2 linked regions of the Homo sapiens genome follow. The protein of the gene in region 2 purifies or fractionates together with the protein of the main gene of each other region. This does not show direct contact. Each region holds a gene or a part of one and is shown on either strand. Other genes may lie near its edges.

What was found.
Region 1: the proteins of TMEM213 (region 2) and GLMN purify together in Homo sapiens (affinity purification with mass spectrometry; 2 studies listed by BioGRID and IntAct, with this or other methods). This does not show direct contact.

The regions. Positions count from the first base shown.
Region 1 is NC_000001.11:92,264,469-92,268,295, forward strand, and holds part of GLMN (glomulin), read right to left. Parts: intron 3,668-3,827; coding exon 3,637-3,667; intron 3,535-3,636; coding exon 3,445-3,534; intron 2,274-3,444; coding exon 2,232-2,273; intron 2,126-2,231; coding exon of another isoform or gene 2,072-2,125; intron 2,025-2,071; coding exon 1,951-2,024; intron 171-1,950; coding exon 86-170; intron 1-85.
Region 2 is NC_000007.14:138,804,127-138,807,586, reverse strand, and holds the end of TMEM213 (transmembrane protein 213 precursor), read right to left. Parts: 3' UTR 828-3,460; downstream 1-827.

The sequences.
Region 1 (3,827 bases), on a different chromosome or scaffold from region 2:
AATAACTCACATTAATGTATTCTACATATGAATAAATATACCCTACGAAATAAATTGGTAATTGACACTTTGGCTATGTTCTTACCTTTAATGACATGTCAATTTGATTTTTGATATTTTGAATAATAAAAGCCTCCACACCTGAGTGATTACTTGTATTCAATAAGCACCTTGAAAGCAAAATTACAATAGATGTGAAATTATCCTGGACAGCATTAGAATTAAATGGTGATAAAAGTTTTACAAATTCAAAGAGGCCATGTGTTACTTCTAGGAATAAAAACCCCACAGTAATGGTAATTAGCAAGGTCATCAACCAATTACAAAGTCACCTGTAATAGTTATTGCTCTCACTAAATGGTAAATTCTTATTTATTTTATTTTACTTTTTTAGACAGAGTCTCGCCCTGTCGCCCAGGCTGGAGTGCAGTGGCACAATTTTGGCTCACTGCAACCTCCGCCTCCCGGGTTCAAGCGATTCTCCTGCCTCAGCCTCCTGAGTAGCTGTGATTACAGGCGCCCGCCACCGTGCCTGGCTAATTTTTTGTATTTGTAGTAGAAACAGGGTTTCACCATGTTGGCCAGGCTTGTCTCAAACTCCTGACCTCGTGATCCGCCTGCCTCAGCCTCCCAAAGTGCTGGGATTACAGGCATGAGCCACCACACCCGGCCGGTAAATACTTATTTATAACTGGATCTTCCAACAAGCCATTTCTATCAAACCAAAATTTGAATATTTTTATGAACATAGTTACAATAATTTAACATGGCAAGAAAGGGCACTAACATAATGGTCTAAAAAATCCCCAAATTATTTCCTGTGAAAGTAGTCCAGTGCTAGAGTAGCTTAATTGCAAAAAAAAAAAAAAAACTAGATATGACTAGCTTAAGAAAAAAAGGGGATTTATTGGTAGAGATACACATAGAACAGAACAGGAAAGCCGGTATAATACCTAAGAATTGAGATTTCATAAACTTGCTCTTACTATCAATAGAAAACAAGAAAAGATAGAATCAAGAGTGTTGGCTGGGCATGATGGCTCATGCGTGTCATCTCAACACTTTGGGAGGCTGAGGTGGGTGAATCGCTTGAGCCCAGGAGTTTGAGACCAGCCTGGGCAACATGGCAAAACCCCATCTCCACAAAAAAATTAGCTGGGCATGATGGCATGCACCTGTAGTCCCAGCTACCTGGGAGGCTGAAGCGGGAGGATCACCTGAAGCTGGGGGGCCAAGGGTGAAGGCTGCAGTGAGCCATGATCACACTGCTGCACCCGCCAAAAAAGAACAGTACTAATATTGGCCAATCCCAGGTAAGACATTTTAGCAAATCCAGCCTGATGCCCAATTTTATCAATAAAGTTTTACTGGAACACACCCATCCCCAATACAAAGTCAAAGTTGAGCACTTGCAACAGAGACTGTATAGCCCATAAAACCTATATTTACTATTTGGCTCTTCACAGAAAATTAATTAGAAAGTTTACCAATCTTTAACTTAGAGAGTTGCTAGAATCTTATCCACCTCAAAGAGCAGTATTAGTAAGCTCTTACTATTAACATAGTGCATAGCCTATCAAAGTTGTAATTCCAGAGCCATCAATTTGAACTGTGAGTAATGGAGATTAGTGACATACATAAAGTTCCAGCAGGAGCATCATCAATCTCAGTTTAATTATTTTTAAGTCTATTTCAAATTTAGAGTATTCCAATTGATTGAACTGCAATATATACTATTAGTCATACAAAATATAGACATATATATAGTATGTCTGAAATATTTGATTAACCCTTTCTCTAGCCATCACTGAGAATTTATAATATGGGTTCCAACCAGAGTTGAATTACATGTAAAACATACCGACATACTATGCCCTAAAACAATTACATGGCATTAACATGACTTTTAATCAACCACACACTTAGCAATTAGCCATGCTTGATACATACCTAAATAATGTATATTTGCCTTGTGAATCCAACTTGTTAATATACAGCTGAAGCATAGCTAAACTCTTTTTCCTCTAAAATGGAACAAACAATATTATTATATAAAATGAATAAAGCTTACCCAGACTTCATCACTATCCATTTTATGCATGTAATACATCCACACTTGTACCTCCTAAATAAAAATTTCACAAATTAAAATTTTTAAAAAGAAAATTAAATTATTTGTCAAATTTTCTCACTGTAACTCATTATTCTTTAGTCACCAAATATTTACATACCAGTGTCTCAATGGGGCAAAGTGTCATTACTTTCACTAAGCCCTGGAAATAAAAAAATGTAAAATTCAGATGTAAACAGATTATACTGACTGCAAACAAACAACTATAATACATCAATAGGATACTAAAAATTCAGAGAAGTGAGGGTAGGAGATTTAAAAGTGAAGTAAATTAATTTTTCCCTAAGCCTTCCATTCCAGAAAGCTAACTACAATTGATTTTTTAAGTGATATTGAGTAGAGTGTCACACAGTGTACTTTTAAAAGCAAACGATAATTTTCAATTATGTCTACAGTGGCAAGAAAATGAAATCAAATCTACAGAAATATAATTTATTAATTAAAAACAATCAAACAATATGTTAACAAAAACCATGTTTTTCTATTTAAATATTAGGAAAACCAGTTCCCACACTGAAATCTAAGGATTTCCTTGGATATCATAACTAACAAAGAGGATTGGGCAAAATAAACCATAGGAGGGAAAAACACAATGTGTATTAGTCTTTCTGGTAATGAGTCAGTGGATGCCTTAGATGGAGTCCTGAGAACTTGAGTTATGAGAAACATAAAGAAGCTTCATTTTCCAAGATCCCTACAGAAATAAAGTGTTAAAAGAAGAAAGTTATGCTTTTCTACTGGATGCTGTGCTATCAATAATGGTGGCCTCTAATAGCTATTCGTGTTTAAATAAATTAAAATTTAAATTTGAAACTTAGTTCCGGCTGGGTGTGGTGGCTCACACCTGTAATCCCAGCACTTTGGGGGGCTGAGGCAGGCTGATCACGAAGTCAGGAGATCGAGACCATCCTGGCTAACACAGTGAAACTCCGTCTCTACTATAAATACAAAAATATTAGCTGGGTGTGGTGGCGGGCGCCTGTAGTCCCAGCTACTCGGGAGGCTGAGGCAGGAGAATGGAATGAACCCAGGAGGTGGAGCTTGCAGTGAGCTGAGATAGCACCACTGCACTCCAACCTGGGCGACACAGCAAGACTACACCTCAAAAAAAAAAAAAATAGTTCCTTAGTCACATTTCAAGTGTTCAGTTTGGCTAGTGGCTTTCATATTGTCAAAGTTCTACTGGACAGCATTACACCAGAGTTTTCAAAGGTTGCAGAGAAAAGAGTGGGAAAGGAATCAGAAAAGACCTTACTTTAAGTTCAGAACAGGCAAAGGGCTATTTTCAATATTAGAATACATATTTTATTTACCTGAGGTACAGTAAGAAAACTCTTGATTTCTAAGTACTGGTAAAGTAGACTATTGTCTTCTATTCTCAATAAACTATTCTCCAGCAGCTCCTACAGATTAAAATATATGCAGATACATATATAGTGAAGTCAACAGCTGTTATTTGTTGACATAACTATGTATTTAAGTTATAATGGGAACAAACATCTTACCAATCCTTTGGAGATAACAGACTCTTCTGTTCTGAAAAATAATATTAAAATTTATCATGAATTTGTAAACTATTTTAGAATGATACTTCATCTTATGAAAAATACAGCAAAAACTGAAATTTTAACACTTTTAAAATGCATATCATTAAGGAGAAATTCTGTTGAAGAACTTGATCAAAAGTTTTAATCCA
Region 2 (3,460 bases):
ATTAATTACTGGGCCCGAGTCATCCTCCCTCCTCAGATTCCACAGCAGCTGGGACTACAGATGTGGACCACCAGGTCCAGCTGATTAATCTTACATGCTGTAACATTTATTTGTTAATAAAAAATTGTATATTTGTTTTGTTTGCATTAGGTGTCATGCATATAAAAAGGAATATATTTGAAATGGAGTTTTGCTCTTGTTGCCTAGGCTGGAGTGCAATGGCTCACCGCAACCTCTGCCTCCCAGGTTCAAGCGATTCTCCTGTCTCAGCCTCCCAAGTAGCTGGAATTACAATCATGTGCCACCATGCCAGCTAATTTTGTGTTTTTAGTAGAGACAGTGTTTCTCCATGTTGGTCAGGCTGGTCTCGAACTCCCGACCTCAGGTGATCCACCCACCTCAGACACCCGAAGTGCTGGGATTACAGGCATTAGCCACTGCACCTGGCCAGGAATAGATTTTTAAATGATGATTTTTATTTAATTTAATTAACTTATTTGTTTGAGACAGAGTGTCGTTCTGTCACCCAGGCTGGAGTGCAGTGGCCCGATCTCGGCTCACTGCAACCTCTGCCTCCCAGGTTCAAGCAATTCTTCTGCCCCAGTCCCCCAAGTAGCTGGGATTACAGGCACCCACCATCACACCCGGCTAATTTTTTGTATTTTTAGTAGAGACAAGGTTTCACTGTGTTGGCCACGCTGGTCTCAAACTCCTGACCTCAGGTGATCTGCCCGCCTTGGCCTCCCAAAGTGCTGGGATTACAGGCGTGAGCCACCATGCCCGGCCACTAAATGATGATTTTTAAAGTCAGATAATTATGCCACACCTTAATATTTAATACTTTATTTCTACATATGACATTTTGATACAGACATGCCCCATATAATATGGACTCTGTGTTACATAAACTGTAGCTGTGTTGAGGACAGTGTCCACTGCTAGAGGCAAAGTTTTAAAATGAAAAGTCCAAAAGTTAGGTAAGTTCTGTTGCTTTAAGTTAGGAAGTTATTAGATCCCTGGAAGTTGATGCCTGCTTTCCCTTTCAGATTTTCTTTTCTTTATTTTTTTCTTTTTGAGGCAAGGTCTCACTCTGTCACCCAGGCTGGAGTGCAGTGGCAAGATCATAGCTCACTGCAGCCTCAACCTCCTGGGCTCAAATGATCTTCCCACCTCAGCCTCCCGAGTAGCTGGGACCACAGGCATGCGCCACCAGTCCCAAATAATTTTTTTGTATTTTTTTGTAGAGGTGGGGTTTCGCCATGTTGCCCAGGCTGGTCTCAAATTCCTGGGCTCAAGCAATCCTCCTGTCTTGGCCTCCCGAAGTGCTGGAATTACAGGAGTGAGCCACCACATCCAGCCCAGATTATCTTTTTTAACTTATTGACAGATAAAGATCTGGTCTGCTGTAATCAAAAAATTTTCTGTTGAGAATAAATCTGAGAGGTAGCATCTGGGAAGTAGAACCATCAAACTATAGAACCATTTTCTTTGCAGTCTCAAGGAAAAGAGTGGTTGTATTGATTCGTTCTCTCCTTCCTCTTGTGCAGATGAAAGAAAAGCAATTGACAAAATGCCTACATTTTAATGTGAGATGGCAGACTGCACATACTTCAGTTCAAAGTAGTCTAAGCATCTACGGGGTTCCCCAGACTGGAGGGCATCTCAGACACCAACTGGTGCCCTGACCCTTCACTTATTAAAGCAGAAAAAAAAAAAAATCCTACCACAAGGTTTAAAGACACAAGAGCCATGCGGCTCAGGTTGAAAGAACAACGGGCCTCATGCCTACCCCGATTCCATGAAGCGACTGAAATGGTTCCATGAACTTTTGCAACTCAGCTTGAAACTGCTGATTTGGTCCAATTCTTCTATTTTCCACGTGTAAAATTGGTGCTCAGTGAGATAAAGTGACTTATTTCTGTTCACATTGGCCAGAAATAAATCTTAATTTCCCTTTTTAAAAAAAGATAGTACTCTCACTGCTACGTCACACACTGTTATATTTTTTAAATGTTTGCAGATGTTAAATCAAAGCATGCACCTTAATGAATCTTTTCATCTCTTGGGAAATAAACCGTCACATATTGTGGAAACGCTTCCTTTGAATTTCTGAAAACATGGAACACATACTCATATTGTATATCCACAAAATGCACCAGGAATTATGCAGACGCTTTTTTTTTTTTTTTTTCCAGACAGGGTCTCACTTTGTTGCCCAGGCTGGAGTGCAGTGGCACAAACATGGCTCACTGCAGCTTTGAACTCTCTAGCTCAAGTGATCCGCCTCCCTCAGCCTCCTGAGTAGCTGGGACTATCAGTGTGCACCACCACGCCTGGCTAATCTTTTTTTTTTTTTTGTAGAGACAGGGTCTCATTATGTTGCTCAGGCTCAGACTCTTTTATGTATGTGATCATTTAACACTTAGGAACAAGAAATCCATCCCGTTGCACTGATTCAACATCTGAGATTCAGAAATTATCTGCTGTTTTGGAAGACTACAAGATGAACCAGGCAATCTCTTCAGTTTCTGTTGTCAGGGAACTTTACTTAGATTTTCTGAAAGAGCCACTGAGCAGTTTTGAGTCATTTGCCTCTTCAAGAGATTGTTCCTATTTCAGAGGTCTTTCATTTTTCCTTTTTGTATTTTGACTAGAGTTTATCTGATCTAAATACATGTTTTCTCACAGAAGGCACAAAATGCTTCATAAGGAGTCATTTTGTCCTTTCTTTCTTCTGATGAACCTGCCCTCTCCTCCTCTGCAAGGTTTCACAGTGATGTGCAACGTCCACTCTCCATGCTAAGTGACAGTGACTGTAATTTGCTGAGAGAGCAGTGACCAAACCATTGGCTCCTTCAGAGGCTGGTTATTTCAACCATCTGGAGAAAAATGGAGGCTCCTAATGCAGAGTGAGGACCTTAAGTTGTCTAGGGCAAAGACTCATTTGTTCATTCATTCATTAATTCACCCATGCACTCATTGGACAAACTTGAATAGGGTACTATGCCCCAGGGGTGTGAGGAAGGATAAACTATGGAGTGGCCCATTCACAACAACTGCACATCAGGGCAGAGCAGAAGTGCTCTAACAGCACCAGCTCCAGGTCACCCAAGGATGACCAGGAAGGCTCCAGGCAGATCAAGCATTCGAGCTGGGCTTGGAGGAATATCCTTGATTCTGGAGGTGGAGTTGGGAAGCAGCCATCCCAGCAAAGAACATGGCAGCAGAGAAGCTGAAGACACCAGGATGAGGAGTGGACCAGTCGGAATCCTTACTCCTGGATGTGCTGGGGGACAGATGGACTCCTCCAAAGAGCTGAATGCTGGGCTGAACAGTTTTAGTCCTTAGGAGCTACTGACTGTTGTCAACAGAAGGTGACAGCGCCTACCCTGGCAGCTGCCCATGGGGAGTGATGAGCCGGGGAGGAAGATCCTCAAGACAGTGAGGACAGAATGCAATA